Homo sapiens: one gene and its partners. The protein of the gene in region 2 purifies or fractionates together with the protein of the main gene of each other region. This does not show direct contact. Each region holds a gene or a part of one and is shown on either strand. Other genes may lie near its edges. The genes, in order: ARID2, STK11IP, DPF3, SS18L1 and BICRA.

Region 1 (3,517 bases), on a different chromosome or scaffold from region 2:
CTGGAGCAATGAGCTGAGTTGCATTTCCCTGACTCACAGTTGCAGGTGCAAAACTCGTATTTGGCACAACTGTTATGGTTACCTGGTTGCCAGAAGTCCCTTGGAAAATGGTTGCTGGGCTATTTGAGATCAGTGGACCTGGCAATATTTGTAAGTTCGAAATGGGCACAGTTTGTACTCCCCCTGAGGGTGGCATTGCACTTGGGACCAACTGAACATTTTGCTGCCCAACCAATAGCTGCTGAGCTGGAGTTTGCCCCTGCACTCCAAAACCTGCGGCTTGGTTACTGGCCACCTGATAGACCACCTGAGGGCTAGGAGCTCTTGCATTATTAGGGGGAGGAATCTGTGGAGCTGGGAGAATAAGCTTACCACCTGGTGTTGAAGGACCACGTTTCGGAAGCAGAAGCTGTTTAATCAGACTCGACTCACCAGAGGCAGGCTGACCAACTCCTGCATTCGACTGTTGAGGTTGAACTTGCATCTGTACTTGTTGGGGCTGCTGAACTTGTACTTGTACCTGCTGTGGTGGGGGTGCTGGTGAATGTTGCTGCTGTTGCTGCCTTTTCACAGATAACATTTGACTGACAGTAGGAGGTGGTCCCTGTGATTGAGGGGTAGAGGACGACGACATGGCAGTAGGGACTTGGTTATTAGTAGCTGGGACAGGTGATGGTGAAGAAGATGGAGTTATGTTAGGTTGTCCAGTTAGCTGAACTGTCTGACCAGCTGGAAGAGCTGCTGGATTAGCAAGAACAATTTGGTGAATGGCTGGTGCATAAGTTTGACCTTGTTGAGCTGGCTGGCTTACAATCACTACGCTTTGTTGGGTTGGCTGCTGTGGTTGTTGAATAGGCTGCTGTACCACTGTAGATGAAACTTGCTGAGAAGGGAGAGGTTTTGGTGCAATGTTCTGAAACCCTACCCTTGAGGCTTGTGGACTTGGGACACCAGCAATAGTAACCATTTGTCCTGTAGCTACCTGAAAATTCTGTACTGAAGTTGCTGAGACAATATTGGATGCAGAAGTTGTTACATACTGTGGGGGTGCTATGATAACAGTATCTTGTGACTGGCTACCAGCTGATGTCTGTTGAGATGAAGTTTGCACAGGTTGGGGTGATGTGGTGATTAACTGTTGACCCTGTGAAACTGTAGAAGTACATGCTGGTATGTTCTGTACTCTGCCAAACATATGACTCTGTGGGACAGCTTGTTGAATTACTGTAACAGGAGTGCCTGAAGGGATCTGTCCTGGTACCACTGTGTGTAATGGAGACTGCTGTGGAATTACAGATGGATGGTGAAGCAATGTCTGAGAATTCACAACTGTAACAGGTTGTGGCCCTGTACTATGATTCTGAACAACAGAACTCTGTGGAGGTCCTCCTCCAACAGCAATACTAACAGGAACTCCTGTCTGGGGTATGGAATTCTGGATAACTGTAGCCTTAACAACTTCACAAGGAATTGGAGCTTTACTTTGAATGACAGTCACTGGAGCATTTTGTTGCTGGTGGGTATGAGGTGAAGGATTTTGTGGAATTCTTGAAACAGTTTGTGCCACAGTATGAACACCTTGTACAGGAAAAGACATTTGTGTTGCAGTCAGATTTGAAGATTGGTTGGCAACAGGAGTCCTCTGAAAATGGTTTCCTATGGTTTGTGATCCATGAGGGATTCCTGAAAATATGAAGAAAACGTCAAAATTCCAAATGAAATGACTGAAAATCCCAAGTAGGAATTATTTTACTTAAGAGAAAATAGTTTTAAGAAATTAACATCTAACAATTTTGAATCATATGAATATGGTAATAGACCAAGTAAGAAAATGCTACTGGAGACACAAAAGTTATACATTTAAAATGCATAGAATATATATTTTTCATTCAGTTTTATTATTAAATCAGTAATACTTTAAAAATACAATAAAAATTAACACCTGCAGGTGAAGGAGCAGGAGATACATCAGGAACAGAATCAACACGAACAACAGAAGTAGAAACTGGTTGCTGCTGATAGTACATCTGAATGGGAAGTGGTATAGCCCTCCGTTTTACTCCTACCACATGAATATGTGCCTGCCCATTGCTACTGGAATCCTCCACTCTCTTCACTGTATGATTTGGAAAGACCGTTCTGTAAAGTACATACATAATCAGTAAGTTTTGATAACTATCACATTGACTTCTAACATTATGTTTACATGAACAACAGCAGTATGTTTACTGTTGCTTATGTATGAACCAGTATGACTCACAGTTATATTCTGCAAGGATGGAAAGCAAAGAAATATAAAAGATTAATCATCCCATTTAAAACATCATTATTTATTAACAATGTCGCTGGGTTTTAAACAATTCCACCCACATATAACTAATAAAAGATACCTATTTTTATGTACTTTGCAAAATATCAAAAAGTCTTTGTATTTGAAGATAATAATATTATATTCTATTATTCAAGATTAAAAAGATACAGTCATGTCTTTAACATGTAAAAGTAGGTAGGAAAAAGAAAGTAAACTTCATTTCTTTGATAAATCTCATAATGTTCCAACACAAACACTAGATGTGATTTCTGAAACTGCTTTTTATTTAAACCTCCACCACACTATAACCTATCCATACGAAACTTCTAGTAGTAGAAATATTTAAAACTAGATAAGATATTTGGTATTTTCTTTAAAGAGCAAGAGATGTTGTAAGTGACGTAAATGGACTTTATTTAAAGAACTATGGATCCTACCTAAGACATTTATAAAATCCAGTTGATGTTAGGATTCCACCACGAGCTAATTTACTGCAAGTCGAGAGGTATTCAGAATACATTTCTGCTCGAGAAACAGAACAATCTGGATTTACTTCAAAATGAGCATTTAGCCTAAAAGAGGAGAAAAATTAAGCATTATACAATATACTCTAGGAAACTCCATATTTAAATATACTAAAGCCATGTGGAGGCAATGTGTTAAAACTAATAATTATACCTACTAATCAAATTTCACTGACTCATACGTTAGTAGCAAAAATATATGCTAAATTTTAGATTAAATCAATAGATTAACATGCTTATTTTAGTATTAAAAATGACACTGACAACAAATATAAAAACTATGTTCACATCCCAATGAGAGCAGGGTTGGTCTGCTGACAACAAATGTTCTATAAGAAATAGTTTTATTTAGTGAATATCTATTCGGCATCCTGTCTTGTAATAATCATAACATAAAACAAGTTCCCAATTACGTGCTATTTGCATTGTAGCTGAAGAAAATGGGGGGAAACTGAACTAAGGTTAAACTTTCCTTGGCTCTTGGATCAAATTCCTTCAGAAAAAACTTATCCAAGCTTTTCAGCTACTTCCTAAAACAATGACACTTTCCATGCTGCACACTCCCATTTCCCCATTTCAAAACAGTTTTAATTTGTAATCCATTACAAACTAATTCAAACCTCATTTTGTCTTTTTCTTAAAATGACCTTTACCTATAAATTGGGATTGGAGGCCTGATTAC
Region 2 (3,517 bases):
AGAGGGCCTAGAGTTAGAAGGTAGAGTGCACTTTGAGGAGTTTGTGGGCCAGGGTTAGCTCATCCCTCCCTGGGGTGGGGAGTGATCAGTTGGCAGCTGTGCCGGGAGAGGGAGCTGGTGGCCTGGGGCGCGGTGGTTGTGTATGAAGCTGGAGGCTTGGGCTCAGGGGAGACCTGAGCATGGGGAAGGAGCATCGTGAGCATGGTGGGAGTTGTGGCACTGTGGGGGGGGCTCATGGGGACCGTGTCCATCCTCCCTCCAGAATCTCCTGCTGTGTGTCCTAACTGTGGTAGTGACCACGTGGTTCTCCTCGCTGTGTCTCGGGGAACCCCCAACAGGGAGCGGAAACAGGGAGAGCAGTCTCTGGCTCCTTCTCCGTCTGCCAGCCCTGTCTGCCACCCTCCTGGCCATGGTGACCACCTTGACAGGGCCAAGAACAGCCCACCTCAGGCACCGAGCACCCGTGACCATGGTAGTTGGAGCCTCAGTCCCCGTGAGTATAGGCAAAACAAGACATAGATGAGTTTGGGGAAGGGAAGGGGCACTGATGGGGAGGTGGAGATGGAGCCCAGGGGCTGCCATGGGCAGGCTGATGCCCCCTCATTGCCCTCAGCCCCTGAGCGCTGTGGCCTCCGCTCTGTGGACCACCGACTCCGGCTCTTCCTGGATGTTGAGGTGTTCAGCGATGCCCAGGAGGAGTTCCAGTGCTGCCTCAAGGTCTGTGCTCCCTGACACTGCCCATGCCCCCAGCTGTCCAGGGTGCCCACTCGTTTCCATCACAGCCAACTGAGTCAGATCAAGCACTCTAGAGACCTGATCTGGCTTCTGGTTTCAACCCCAGCAGCTTCTTGCTGTGTGGCCGTGGACACATTCCCTGGTATTTGAGTCCCAGTTGTTGCCTGTCTGCAATGGAGATAACGATGCCTCCCTTACACAGTGGCGTGCGTCAGGGCTCATGTTGAAGCTGCCCAGCCCAGCACCTGGCACTCATCAATGGGGCCTCCTAGCATTATTATAAACACATGATGTCGTTAGGCCTTTGTTGAGCACCTGTTGTGCTAGACATTGAGGATCTACAGATCAATCTTGCCCTTGATCTTACAGTCTGGTGTGAGAAGCTGACAATGATTATGCAATATGCAAATGCTGTAATCGGGCTAAGGCCCTTGAAGGGGTGTCTAGTCCAGCTTGAGTGGGTCAAGGAACCTTCCTGGGAGGTGATGTCTAAGCTCAGTCTTGAAGGGTAAGTTAAGGAGTAGGGAGGAAAAGAATGTCTTAGGTAAAGGAAGCCGCAAATGCATGGAGGCCCGAGAGTGTCGCTGGTGGGGAGAACTGCCCAGGATGAGGGCACCTGGACATGCAGGGCGAGGGGCAGGGGTCCTGAGAGGACTCTGGGGGGCCGGCAGGGGCCAGGTCAGGAGCTGCCTCCTGTGTCTGCCAAGGAGTTTGGACTTGTTTCTGAGGGCCACTGGGAGCCACTGAAGGATTTGAAATGGGGCAGTGATGGTCAGTTTTGTGCCTTAGAATAGTTAGTCTGGCGGAGCGTGGAGGGGGTGAGGCGACAGGCAGGGAAGCCAGCTGCTGAGGCTCTGAGCGGGCAGGGGCTGCAAGGCAGAGAGCGGTGGTGGATGAAGAGGCTGTCGAGTGTGAGGGAAGCTCCATAGACTGGTGGGTGGGCAGTGGGAGGGTCAGGCCGAGGGTGCTGTCACCAGGAACTCGGCTTTCAGTCTGGCCCCACCTCCCCAGGCCTCTCATCAGGTTTCTCACCAACTTCCTCTTCCCCCAGGTGCCAGTGGCATTGGCAGGCCACACTGGGGAGTTCATGTGCCTTGTGGTTGTGTCTGACCGCAGGCTGTACCTGTTGAAGGTGACTGGGGAGATGCGGTGAGTGAGAGGGGAGATGCAGTGAGTAAGGGGGGAGATGGGGTGAGTTGGGGGGAGATGGGGGAGTGAGGGGGAAGATGGGGTGAGGGGGGAGATGGGGTGAGTGAGGGGGGAGATGGGGTGTTAAGGGGGGAGATGGGGTGAGTGAGGGGGGAGATGGGGTGAGAGAAGGGGGAGATTGGGTGAGTGAGGGGGAGGTGGGGTGAGTGAGGGGGGAGGTGGGGTGAGTGGGGGGGAGGTGGGGTGAGTGGGGGGGACGTGGGGTGAGTGAAGGGGGAGATGGGGTGAGTGGGGGGCGGAGATGGGGTGAGTGGGGGGCGGAGATGGGGTGAGTGAGGGGGGAGATGGGGTGAGTGAGGGGGAGATGGGGTGAGTGAGGGAGGAGATGGAATGAGGGGGAAGATGGGGTGTGGTGAGCGCACGGGGGTGATGCAGTGAGTGAGGCAGGTGCAGCTGGGGCAGGGCCTCTCTGGGACTCTCACTCCACTCTCATGCTTCTCCATTGCTCTGTCCCCTCTCTCCACAGTGAGCCTCCAGCTAGCTGGCTGCAGCTGACCCTGGCTGTTCCCCTGCAGGATCTGAGTGGCATAGAGCTGGGCCTGGCAGGCCAGAGCCTGCGGCTAGAGTGGGCAGCTGGGGCGGGCCGCTGTGTGCTGCTGCCCCGAGATGCCAGGCATTGCCGGGCCTTCCTAGAGGAGCTCCTTGGTGAGAGAGGGGAGGGGAAGGCAGGAGGGTGGGCAGGAGGGTGGGCAGGGCCTTGGGGCCAGGCTCCCCACCTGGTACCCAGTAGCGGAGACAGAGAGGTAACAGGACTTGTCCCTTGTAGAAGTTTCTGAAATCCAGAAATGTGGAGAATAGGAAGGGATTGAGAGGTGGTGAGTTTAGGCTGGAGGAGAGCAGAGCCTTCTAAAGTTCCCTGGCCTGCCTCTGTCTAGATGTCTTGCAGTCTCTGCCCCCTGCCTGGAGGAACTGTGTCAGTGCCACAGAGGAGGAGGTCACCCCCCAGCACCGGCTCTGGTGAGTCGATAGGAGGCAGAGGCTGGGGTTGCTGCCCAATCCTCTTTCCACAGAGCCCCAGACATGGCCCTGTGCTGAGTAGGTCCTGGGCAGCCACCTGTCCTCATGCCATGCCCCTTATGGGCCCCTAGTGTCTCCTCCCAACCCCCTGCAGGGCTTTCTTCCCACTCCCCTCTCTTCAAGTCCTTCCCACCCGCTAGCTGATCTTCCTGTGCCTGCCATATTCCCTCTAGGCCATTGCTGGAAAAAGACTCATCCTTGGAGGCTCGCCAGTTCTTCTACCTTCGGGCGTTCCTGGTTGAAGGTGAAGCCTCTGTGCAGCTGATGCTTCCCTGGTCTCTGTACCCTACCTTGTCACAGGCACTGGCCCACGCGCAGCACCTGTACAGTGCCCTTGCAGCAACTGTCAGTTCCTGGAACCTGGAGAACCTCTCACTTGAGGGCATAGCTGAGTAACAGCCTCAGTGTGCCCTGACCCTCTGGGTGGGGTTAGGAGGCACCCAGGATCCTCAGTTACCCAGAGCCTTTGCTCTCGGGCCCAGGCTTTCTATGAAGTGGAGCAGCGTGGCTGAGTCGGCCCTGCCTCATCAGTCACAGAAGGAGAGGGTGGAGCCTT
Region 3 (3,517 bases), on a different chromosome or scaffold from region 2:
TACGATCAGATTGCAGTTTAGAAAGATCTTACTAGCTGCTATGTAAGAGTAGATACCCAGTGGGGGAGAGGTTCATTCAAGAGGCCCGGGGACCAGTTAGGAAGCTGCTATAGCTATCCAGGTGCGTGATGATGGTGGCCTGAATTACAATTGCGGCATGGAGAAAGAAATGGGTCTTGCTCCCATTTAAGCATCATTGATTAGATGGGGAGAGTGATAGGGAAGAAGCCAAGGATGCCGTCTGGGTTGTGGCTTGGTCAGCAAGCCAGATGATACAGCCACCCAATGGGACATGGGAGGAAGAGCAGACTCATGGGAGGGAGAGGGCAACCTCAGCTATAGACATGTTCTACAGATAGGGATGACCTGGAGGCTGTTGAAGAGAGCAGGAGAGAAGTCTGGGCCTGAGATATGGACTTGGGATTCATTGTAATTAGATGGCAAGTGAAGGTCCTAGGAGAGGAAGCCCAGAATGTGTGAGAGCAAATGTCTTTGACCTTGTCTTCATGGAGAAGTGTCCATGAACCCCTTGAAATGATACACACAATTTTGTACATAGGTAGAAATGTACATTTTTCTATGGAAAGAGTAAGTCCGTAGCTTTCATTGAATTCTCTGAAAGATCAAGGACCCAAAAGAGTTTACTGAGAAGAAGGCCAAGAGTTTACTGAGAAGAAGTACACTTGGGGTACTCCAACTTTACAGGACAGGCAGAGAAAAAAAGACTGAAAAGGAACAGTCAGAGAGGTGGGATGAAGACGAGCACACTGTAGTTTACGCCAAAACAGTTACATCATTATTGCAGAGCCAGCATAAGCTACAGGACAATTTGATTTAGGGATAATACAAGGAGAAACAAGTTAGGATGGAGACAGAAAACAGACAGGACTTGTCAGAAACAGTGTTATTAATGCCTTAAAAACAGTAATAACCCCTACTACAGCAGTGACATGGGAAATACAAATAGGTAGAATATCCTGGATTACAATTTCCCAAAGGAAAACTAGGCATCTGAGAGTTTAAGTGCATTTTGCATGGGTTGACCACTGTCTAGCACCATATTCTCTTCTCTTCCACCACCAAGAGCCCCCAGCTTATGCTAACTCTCATGACAAACACAATTTTAGTACCTCTCACTACCAACTATCCAGGAACCAGGAATCACCTATTACTACAGTTCCAGCAGAATGGGAATCCCATTCTCGGATATCCAGGGTAAATCCCTGACCATGTGAGAGGAATCCTAGTGCCCCAACAACCTCACCCCCTGACTCCTCCTCAAAGGCTCTGCCAAGTCAACAAAAAAATCCTCTACATTTACACTATCTGTAAAGCCAAAGACCAGCGTCAACCTAAATGTCCATCAATAAGGGAATGGTTGGATAAGTAAAAATTATGCAGCTGTAGGAAGGAATGAAGAATGTCTATATATTCCTCCAGATTAATCTCTAAGATATTCAGAGAAAACAAGCAAGATGGAGAAAACATATATACTTGTTACCATTTTTCATGGATTCATATATACACACACATGTTTACATTTAAACAAAATGGAAAGACAAATCATATTTTTTAGTGGTTGCCTATATGCAGAGTGAAGGAATAGTGTGGAAGAGGTAAGTAGAGAGCTACATTTCTTTGAATATAATGTTTCTTTATAAATTTGATTTTAGAACCAATAAATATTTTACACAGTCATAAAACAAAATTTAAATAGCAATATGTCCCTAAAAAAAACAAAAGAAAAATGAGGCAAATGAATTTGGTTATGTATCCAATTGGTAGCATAACCACACAGAGAGAAACTATTCCATCTGACTATAAAACAATTAATTTGACAATACATCCTTAGTAGGACATACCTTAAGGTCATACATAAATGCAGATCTGCATATATATGTGTGTGTGTGTGTAATGTTCAGCAATTATATTATTGGTTTAAATATTGGAATCAATATTCTGAGACTGCTTTATGTGCATCAAATGAGTAATTATGTTGGTATTATTGAAGAGCAAGATTTTGTAACATGGTTGAAAGAAAATAGAAATGTAGGCCAATGAAGTTAAGTCAAAAGTCAGTAGTTGGTTCTAAGTATGAACTGGATGCATCAGTATAAATTCATGGTGTAGTGTATCTTTAAAACAAGCAAAAAATATTTTCTACCTCTGTCCACAGAAAGTGCTCCAAAACAATGACTAACAGCAAAATTAGCACCTCTAGCACCCATATTATGTTCTCTAAAGACCATTGCCCACTAAAAGGAATTAGGAGTCCTGGGAGAAATAAGTGATTCCAGGTCTGGAGCATAAAATGTATAAATATATTTACATATTACAAAGTAAGGAAGCTATCAAATACTATTAGGATTATGTCAAAAGGACTCAGGATCCAACCTGAATATGTTACCACTGGTCAAAGATGGGACAATTTTACCTATAATGGATTATAACAAATAAAATATGTTTAAAATCTTAAGTTCATAAACATATTTTTTAAAACCTTAGTCACCTTCAGAAGATGCTAGAGAAACATCACACTATATTTTTATTTATTTATTTGAAATAATTTTAAACTTAGAGAAAAGTGCAGAAATTATGCAGAGAATTGTACTCACTGTGCCCTAATATTAACATATTATATTACTATAGCAGAATTACGAAAATCAGAAAATTACCATTGGTGTAATACTGTTAACTAATCTACAGACTTTATTTTAATTTCTCCAGTTTTCCCACCTATGTCTCTTTTTTTTTTTTTTTTTTTTTCTGAGACAGAGTCTCACTCTGTTGCCCAAACTGGAGTGCAGTGGTGCCATCTCGGCTCACTGCAGCCTCCTTCTCCCGGGCTCAAGCAATTCTCCTGCCTCAGCGTCCTGAGTAACTGGGATTACAGGCATGTGCCACCATGCCTGGCTAATTTTTGTATTTTTAGTAGAGACAGGGCTTCACCAAGTTGGCCAGGCTGTTCTCCAGCGCCTGACCTCAGGTAATCCGCCCGCCTCAGCCTCCCAAAGTGCTGGGATTACAGGCGTGAGCCACCACGCCCGGCCCCCAACCTATGTCTCTTTACCAGGGATCCAATCCAAGATCCCTCATTGCATTTAATTGTTGTGTTTTCTCAGTATCCTTCAATCTGTGACAGTTCCTCAGTTTCTTTGTCTTTCATGAGCTTGACACTTTCAAAAAATCCAAGCCAGTGATTTTGTAAATGTCACTCAATTTCAGTTGGATCTTTTCTCATGATAAGATCCACATATGCATACATTTTTTAGCAAGAATACCACTAAAGTAATGTTGTGCCCTTCTTGGCGCATCATATCGGGGGAAATTGAGGCCAGTACGTCTTATTACTTGTAATGTTATCTGTGATTATATAGTTAAGGTAGTGTCTGCCATTTTTTTCACTGTAAAGTTACTGTTTTTCCCTTTGTAATATACTAATAAGTAATATTGTTGGGGAGATACTTGGAGATTATCTCCTCAACAAGAGAAATAGGATATTTGAGATTATGTAAAT
Region 4 (3,517 bases), on a different chromosome or scaffold from region 2:
TGGTGGGAGACCCACGGAGAGCAGCCCCGAGACTGAAACCCGGAAGAATACCTGAGCAAAGGAGGAGATACACTAGTGACAAGTGATTGAAAAGAAAAACAATCAACAACTCCAGGGAAAACAAAAGCCAGGCAGGAAAAGCAGTCACACGGTCCTGCGTGGTTCAGCAGTGAGCAAGGTGTTTATCATCACCACGTCAACAGCAGAGGCAGATCCAACCCCCGAGAAAGCCACTCTGACGGGTATGAGTGGGGAGCGCAGGTGTGCAGCGGGGAGGGCAGACCTTATCGGGTGACCTGTTCTCCCTGGTCACCAGGTAAGGTCAGCAGCCCTAAACCCATTCCAAAGTGGCCACTTGGTTTGGCCTTGAGAAGGGCAAGACAGCGCCTCTGGGAGGTGGGAGGCATTACTCCTGAGGTTACTCATGCCCTGATAGGGTCTGTCTGTGTCCCCACCCAAATCTCATCTTCAATTGTAGTTCCCATAAGCCCCACGTGTCGTGGGAGGAACCCAGTGGGAAGAAATTAGATGGATGGGAGCTGTCTCCCCCATGCAGTTCTTGTGATGGTGAGTGAGTCTGCATGAGATCTGTTGGTTTTACAAGCACCTGGCATCTCCCCTGCTTGCGCTTCTCCTTCCTGCCGCCTTGTGAAGAAGGTGCCTTGCTTCCCCTTCCGCCATGATTCTAAGTTTCCTGAGGCCTCCCCAGCCCTGTGGAACTGTGAGTTAATTAAGCCTCTTTCCTTTATAAATTACCCCATCTCAGATATTTCTTCATAGCAGTGTAAGAACAACTAACACACACGCCCATGGTGCTTCTTGACTCCTGATGTGCACGCGCGGCTTTGGTGAGCATAAAATCCAAAGCAAAAGACCCTGACAGGACGGAAATGCACCGACAGGCAGCTGTGGCCCCCACTCTGGAGGTTGTCGATTCGTAGTTTCTTATGTGTCTGTGTTTATGAAAATCTCTAAGACAAGCATTTACTCACGGTATCATCTGCAAAGCGACCTTAAAGAGGCCTGAAGTGAGTCTGGGGTTGCCAGGGCTGGTGATGGGCCCACCTGAGTCTCCTCCACCTGGTGTGTACCTCTAACACTAAGCTGAACAAAGAAGCCATTCACGCGGCCTGGAGCGTTCTAGATCTTCTGTATTTACTGCTGTCTTCTGCAGACACTGTTTCCCAGCTTCCTGATGTGCACTTGTGAATTTTTCTGCAACGTGAGATACAGTTCTCCCCACCCTTTCCTAAGAGGCCGAGTTTCTACAGGTTCAGGGGTAAACCCGCGCCAGAGACGCCACCGGGAAAGCACTGAAGCTGGTGGCCTGAGGCCTCCCGAGGTGAGGGCGCTGGGGACAGAGATGAGGTGGCAACTCCATCTGGAGGAGCCAGAGGCTGGCATCGGGGGCCGCAGCAAGGAGGGGTGGTGAGATCCCATCTCTGAGCATGCTTCATCAATGTGCCCATCCTAGGCCTGGGTGAGTGGAGGCGACAGTGAGGAGGTGCGACCCGCTCTGCTCATGGTGGAGTGGGCGTGGGTGGCCAGTCGGGTGAAGACCGACGTGGGCATGCATCTGCTCAATGCCATGAGGCAGCGGAGCCCCAGGAGACTCCTGGGGTTGACGTCCAGCTGGGCTGGAGGCTGGGCAGGAGCACATGGGTAAGGTGGGGGAAGGGCGGCCCGATGGAGGAAACAGGCATGTGTGAAGGCCACGGGGCATCTCCAGGAATGGAGGCCAGCTCTGGGGAGCGGGAAAAGAGGGGAACGGGGGAGGCCAGCCCTGGGGACCGGGAAAAGAGGGGAACGGGGGAGGCCAGCTCTGGGGAGAGGGAAAAGAGGAGAACGGGGGAGGCCAGCTCTGGGGATCGGGAAAAGAGGGGAACGGGGAAGGCCAGCTCTGGGGAGCGGGAAAAGAGGGGAACGGGGGAGGCCAGCTATGGGGAGCGGGAAAAGAGGGGAACGGGGGCTGCTGGGGGACAGGAGTCCTGTGCCCATTGTGGGGGTGACTTTCTCAACCAAAGCCTGTGCTCACTGCAGAGACTGGCTGGACCAAGATCCCAACGCGGCTGGGTGCATCCATTACCCAATGCGCAACAAACCTCCCGGAGCCGCGTGGTTGAAACATGATTTCTTAGTTCTCATGATTCTGGGCTGGTTCGGAGGATCTTCTGCTGGGCTTGGCTGGGCTCGTGGCTGGGGCAGCTGGGACACCTGGGCCTCCCACTCCCTCTCTGCGTGGTCACCCCTGTGGTCTCAGGCTCTGAGGGGTGGCCCCAACGTGTCTCTGTTGGTCAGGCTGGCTGATGCCCAGGGCCAAGCCCAGCACCCACAGGGAGACAAACCCAAGGGGCACGGAAGCCACGGCCATGGCAATGGACCATGTGGGTGAGCAGAGAAACTGGATTTGGCAAGCGGGGACTGACGGGGGACACGGGGCTTGGCTTGGAGGGCCCAGGGCACAGCCAGGCACCAAGGATGGGGTCTGGGGCTGCTGAAGCCCCACCGTGGGGTCCTAACTGGGTAGGCGAGGGAGTGAGGATGAGAACCAGGGACGGAGAACTGGGGTCCCAGAGCCCACAGAGAGTAGGGGAAGGGCTGGGGCTACCAGGCAAAAACCTGGGTGAGGGGCTCTCAGCAGAACAGTCTCTCCCCAATGACAACCTGTGTGGGGCCCTGGAAGCCAGACAGAGGAGGCCTGGGGCTCTGAGGCTCACTGCCGGGGCTGGCTCAGCCCACACTGGGCAGGAAGACCTCCAGTGTCCTCATGGTTGTCCTTTCTAATTACAAAGACTTTTGGAACCTTTTTAATTTTGCAGGAGGAACCCCTGGCTCCTCTTCCCCAGAGGCCAGCTCTGCCGATTCTGGAAGCGTCTGGCATGGAGCCTGTGCACTCCCCTCCCGACTCTGCACACACCTGATAACGTTTCGCTCCCGCTGCTCCACACAGCTCCCTTTCCTCTCAAACATCTTGGAGACTGTCCTCTGTCAGCACATAGAGACCTCACCTGTCCCTTGAGCCCAGGAGGACAAGGCTGCACGAGCTGTGATCACGTTACTGCACCTCAGCCTGGGCGAAAGAGCAAGACTCTGTCTCCAAAAAAAAAAAAAAAAAAAAAAAAAAAAAAAAAAAAATCCACCTCAATGTTTCTTATGCTCCGGAGAATTCCACAACATGGACACAACGTAGTACTCTGTCTGCTTGGACAGACATTGAAATTGTTCCCCGTCTTCTGCCACTACATGCAGGGCTGCCATGCACTCCCCACGCATGGCGTGGACACAGACGCAGAATCAATTCCTAGGAGTCATCAAGGTGTGAGGGGGACCAGCCTGGCTAACCGGAGAGCTGGTCGAGCATCAGCAGGTGGCTAAGCCAGCGATGGCACCTGCGCTAGCGCCTGCCACTCCTGTTCTCGGGGCAGACATCGCTGACCCATCAGCAGTCCTTCCCTCTGAGCCCAGCCTGAGCTGCTCCGTCCCTGCCCCCGAGGTCAGCAAGCCGATACTACAGACT
Region 5 (3,517 bases), on a different chromosome or scaffold from region 2:
CCCACATCACCGCCCAGCACCCAGTGCCCCTGCCTCGCACAGTCTCTCTCCCAGTGTGGCTCCTGTCGTTTCGCCCCCCCGCCTCCCTTCCTGGCTTCCCCTCTTGTCCTCAGCGTCTGGCCTTCATTCTGGCATCTCCATCTCTGAGCTTCTCCCGGCCTCTTGGGTCCTGGTCCTCCCACCTGCTCCTCTCCTTGTCTTCTGTCTCCCCCACGTCTTACATCTACAAGTGGCCTCGGCCTCAGCTGTCCCCACCCTCTCACCCTTTCATTCTCGGTCCCTGATCTGCTCCGTCTCCGGTCTGTCTCATCTAAACCCGCCTTTCCTGTCCTGAGCTCACATCTTGTCATCTCAGCCCTGTCCTTCCCGTCCTGTGTCCATATCACCTGCTCTTTCCCCAGTCATAGTCCCTTACACTGTTGCCAGTAGTCTTGGTGCCGTCTCCGTCCCACCGTCTCCGTGTTTCTCCCTCATCTCTGGCTGCCTGTCTGGGTGTCATTCTGCCCTTCCTGTCCCTGCACGGCTGTTCGTGGTGTCTCAGCTGCCTGATGGTCCCAGCTTCATCCTGTCCGCGTCTTCCAGTGTCTCCCTGCCCCTGCCAGCCCCAGTTCCCAGTTCCCGAAGACTCCTGGTCCTGTCCTGACCCCTGCTCTAAGGGCCCCTTACCTGCAGCCCGGAGGGCTTCCCTGGCCCGGAGGAAGCGGCCTTGGCCACATTCAGGGTCGGGAGGTTGCTGGCAAAAGCCTTGTTCTCGGCTGGAAGCAGAGGAGGGAGGCCTGGGGGTGGGTGGGGTGGGGGAGACAGGGCCTGCGGTCACTGCATGAAGGCCCCCTCCTCAAACGGGAGCCCCATCCTGTACCCCACCGCTCTCCTCCTGGCCCTCCGGCCCTTCAAATCTGGGGCCAGCCCTGCCACCTCTGGCCTTCCTGTGTCCCTTGAGTTCTGGCTGATGCCCTGTGCTGAGTCCCACAGCCCTGCCCCAGCCCATTCTCCCTGCTCAGCCCCGCCCACCCATCTTCAGGCCCCGTCTCCCTGGGCACATAGGCGACCTCTCTCCTACCTGTGGCGGCCATGGGTGCCGGGGCGGGGGCGTGGCTGGGGGCAGTGGGGGTCCCAGATGGGGCCTGCCCACTGACCAGCACAGACGCAGCGGGGCTGGTGAGGGGCCCCAGGCTGGTGGAGGTCTGCGGGGCGGCAGGGGCCCCCCCAGCCTTGTTCTGGAGGATGATTCCGGACGGCACCTGAGGAGGGGACAGGTGGATGAGGGGTGGGGAACATAGGCTAGGTGTAGGGGTGTCCAGACGCAGCAGGGCTGGGGAGGATCACAGAGCCGTAAGGCGGAGGGGCTCCCATCAGACTGAGAGGGTGGGATGGGATGGGGCTGATGGGGCGGGCAGTCCCTGCCTCCCGTTACCTGGTGAAATCTCTCGAGAAGAGCCTTCGGCTGGGGCAGCGCTGGGAAGGGGGTGGTCACCATCTGGAAGGTCCGAGGAGGCGGTGGGGGGGGTGCTGCCGGCTCAGGGACCAGGTGGAGGGTTGGAGGGGGAGTGGGGGACTTGTGGGGCCCCTGGCTGGGTGGGAACTGGAGCTGGAAGTCGGATGGCGTAGGGGCTGGCAACCTGGAGGACGTCTCAGAGGAGGAGGCCACAGCAGAGGAGGTGGAGGATGGAGGGAGGTGGGGGGCTGGGGGCAGCGGTCCCTCAGGCGGCTGGGACTGGGGGCGGAGAGGCGGCTGCGGCGGGCCTGGGGCAGTAGGGGCCGGGTTGCTGGCAGGCGGGGGAACGCCTAGCTGGTTTTGGATGACAAAGATGCCAGGCAGAGTTGGGGGGGCCTGGGGTGGGGGGCAAGGGTGCAAGGGTGGCTCTGAGGGAGGGCGGGACACACTCTGTGGCCGGGAGGGTGGGCGGGAAGGGGGCCGGGTGGGGTGTGGGGAGGGCAGGTGGGGGCTGTCCCCCAGAGGGGCCTGGTGAGGTAGTGACGGGGACGAAGAGGGGCCTGGGCCCTTCAGCGGAGCCGCTGCCGGGATCTGGGCAGGGGAGGGAGGGAGAGGGGAGGGGCGGGGGTCAGAACCAACCATAGCTCCTGTTGCCCCAAGACACTGGGGTCCCCAGCCATCCCCGCCAGAAGCCCCCTTCCTAGCCCACACCCATCCTGAGAGAGGAGCCCACCACGGCTGCCCTTCCCTCCCTCGCCTCTCATTCCCCACAGCACCCCCTCCACCTGCCCTCGACCTCTGTCCCCCACCGCAGCTCCTCCACATTTCTCTGGCCTCCGATCTCAACCCCACTTCTGCCCCATTCCCCCCACCCCTCGCAGTTCCCCAGACAAAGGCGAGCCCTGCAGGGTTGGGGTGGCAGCAGCAGAGGAAGCAGAGGCAGTGGTGGCGGTGGCAGCAGGGGCACCACACCCGCTGCCCAGCAGGAGGCAGGAGGGCCGGGCGGCGAGCACAGCAGCGGGGAAGGAGGGCAGGCAGGGCAGCGTCCCAGCCGCCAGCCCCCACCAGCCCATCCAGCCAAGTCAAGGCAAAGAGACACCAGCATGATGCTGTGTACCATGGCTCGGGGTTGATGGCCACGGCACGGGGGCTGCCGAGAATACGGATGGCCACACAGGGACAGGCCTGGGTTCACAGCCACGTGTGGACCTCTGGATGCGGGCATGGGAAGGCCTGGACCCCCTTCTAAGTGTCCTGGGCACCTGCCTCTGTGTGCCTGTGTGTCCATGGCTGCAGGCCTACCTGGGCGCCACGTGAGCTTGCAGGTACAAGCGTGCATGCGTGTGCACGACGTACCAGACTCTGATGAAGCCTGTGTCTGCAAGCACACGCGATCTGGTGCTAGTTCTGTCACACGCACACAGCCACCTCGCCTAAAGCATGTCTCAGACGGAGCACCTTGCCGTTCTGGACCCTCCTCCCAAAGAATCATAACCAGAGCAGCCACTGTGTAACCAGTGGGCACCAGCTGTGCACCCAACACTGGGCTGGCACCGTGATACTTGCTGTCACAGAATCTGCATCCTAGTAACAGCTCATGCTGATCTAACACGAATGGCCGGCCTCCCGCATCCATTTGTGTGATCTCTCCCTAGCCCTGAGGGCAGTGGTAACACTGGACCCATTTCACAGATAAGAAACTGAGGCCAAGGCTCCAAAACTGGTCCAGACTCTCCAGGCTGGTGAAGGCGGAACTGAGGCCTTTACACTGCTCAGTGACTTCTGAGCCATTTCTCAAAGCTGACTGAGTTCAGGCTCAGAGGGCTCAGGATATCTGCCCGAGGACAGCCAGCACCACCACACTCCAGAACCGGGCATCTCGGCATGACATCAGATTCACCACCAGCTTTGGCCTCTAAGTCCCAGGGCCCTTCCAGCATCCCTTCCAAGCTGGGCCCTGAGTAACTTCTGACAGTTAAAGAACCAAACCAAACCAATCAATCAATCAGTCTTCAAAAGGTTTGCCACCTCTAAGAAGAGATGAGAGGCGCAGTCCTTGGCGCTGTGTACGGCTGGTGGGAC

The links.
Region 1: the proteins of STK11IP (region 2) and ARID2 purify together in Homo sapiens (affinity purification with mass spectrometry, with the first as the bait; one large-scale study listed by BioGRID). This does not show direct contact.
Region 3: the proteins of STK11IP (region 2) and DPF3 purify together in Homo sapiens (affinity purification with mass spectrometry, with the first as the bait; one large-scale study listed by BioGRID). This does not show direct contact.
Region 4: the proteins of STK11IP (region 2) and SS18L1 purify together in Homo sapiens (affinity purification with mass spectrometry, with the first as the bait; one large-scale study listed by BioGRID). This does not show direct contact.
Region 5: the proteins of STK11IP (region 2) and BICRA purify together in Homo sapiens (affinity purification with mass spectrometry, with the first as the bait; one large-scale study listed by BioGRID). This does not show direct contact.

The regions. Positions count from the first base shown.
Region 1 is NC_000012.12:45,848,202-45,851,718, reverse strand, and holds part of ARID2 (AT-rich interactive domain-containing protein 2), read right to left. Parts: intron 2,884-3,517; coding exon 2,749-2,883; intron 2,162-2,748; exon of another isoform or gene 2,140-2,161; coding exon 1,943-2,139; intron 1,684-1,942; coding exon 1-1,683. UniProt on the Homo sapiens protein: Involved in transcriptional activation and repression of select genes by chromatin remodeling (alteration of DNA-nucleosome topology). Required for the stability of the SWI/SNF chromatin remodeling complex SWI/SNF-B (PBAF).
Region 2 is NC_000002.12:219,611,342-219,614,858, forward strand, and holds part of STK11IP (serine/threonine-protein kinase 11-interacting protein), read left to right. Parts: exon of another isoform or gene 1-20; intron 21-262; coding exon 263-493; intron 494-613; coding exon 614-717; intron 718-1,786; coding exon 1,787-1,884; intron 1,885-2,410; coding exon 2,411-2,589; intron 2,590-2,819; coding exon 2,820-2,901; intron 2,902-3,134; coding exon 3,135-3,205; coding exon of another isoform or gene 3,206-3,348; exon of another isoform or gene 3,349-3,517. UniProt on the Homo sapiens protein: May regulate STK11/LKB1 function by controlling its subcellular localization.
Region 3 is NC_000014.9:72,621,589-72,625,105, forward strand, and holds part of DPF3 (zinc finger protein DPF3), read right to left. Parts: intron 1-3,517. UniProt on the Homo sapiens protein: Belongs to the neuron-specific chromatin remodeling complex (nBAF complex).
Region 4 is NC_000020.11:62,150,252-62,153,768, reverse strand, and holds part of SS18L1 (calcium-responsive transactivator), read right to left. Parts: intron 3,091-3,517; exon of another isoform or gene 1-3,090. UniProt on the Homo sapiens protein: Transcriptional activator which is required for calcium-dependent dendritic growth and branching in cortical neurons. Recruits CREB-binding protein (CREBBP) to nuclear bodies.
Region 5 is NC_000019.10:47,692,624-47,696,140, reverse strand, and holds part of BICRA (BRD4-interacting chromatin-remodeling complex-associated protein), read right to left. Parts: intron 2,027-3,517; coding exon 1,415-2,026; intron 1,242-1,414; coding exon 1,061-1,241; intron 777-1,060; coding exon 667-776; intron 1-666. UniProt on the Homo sapiens protein: Component of SWI/SNF chromatin remodeling subcomplex GBAF that carries out key enzymatic activities, changing chromatin structure by altering DNA-histone contacts within a nucleosome in an ATP-dependent manner.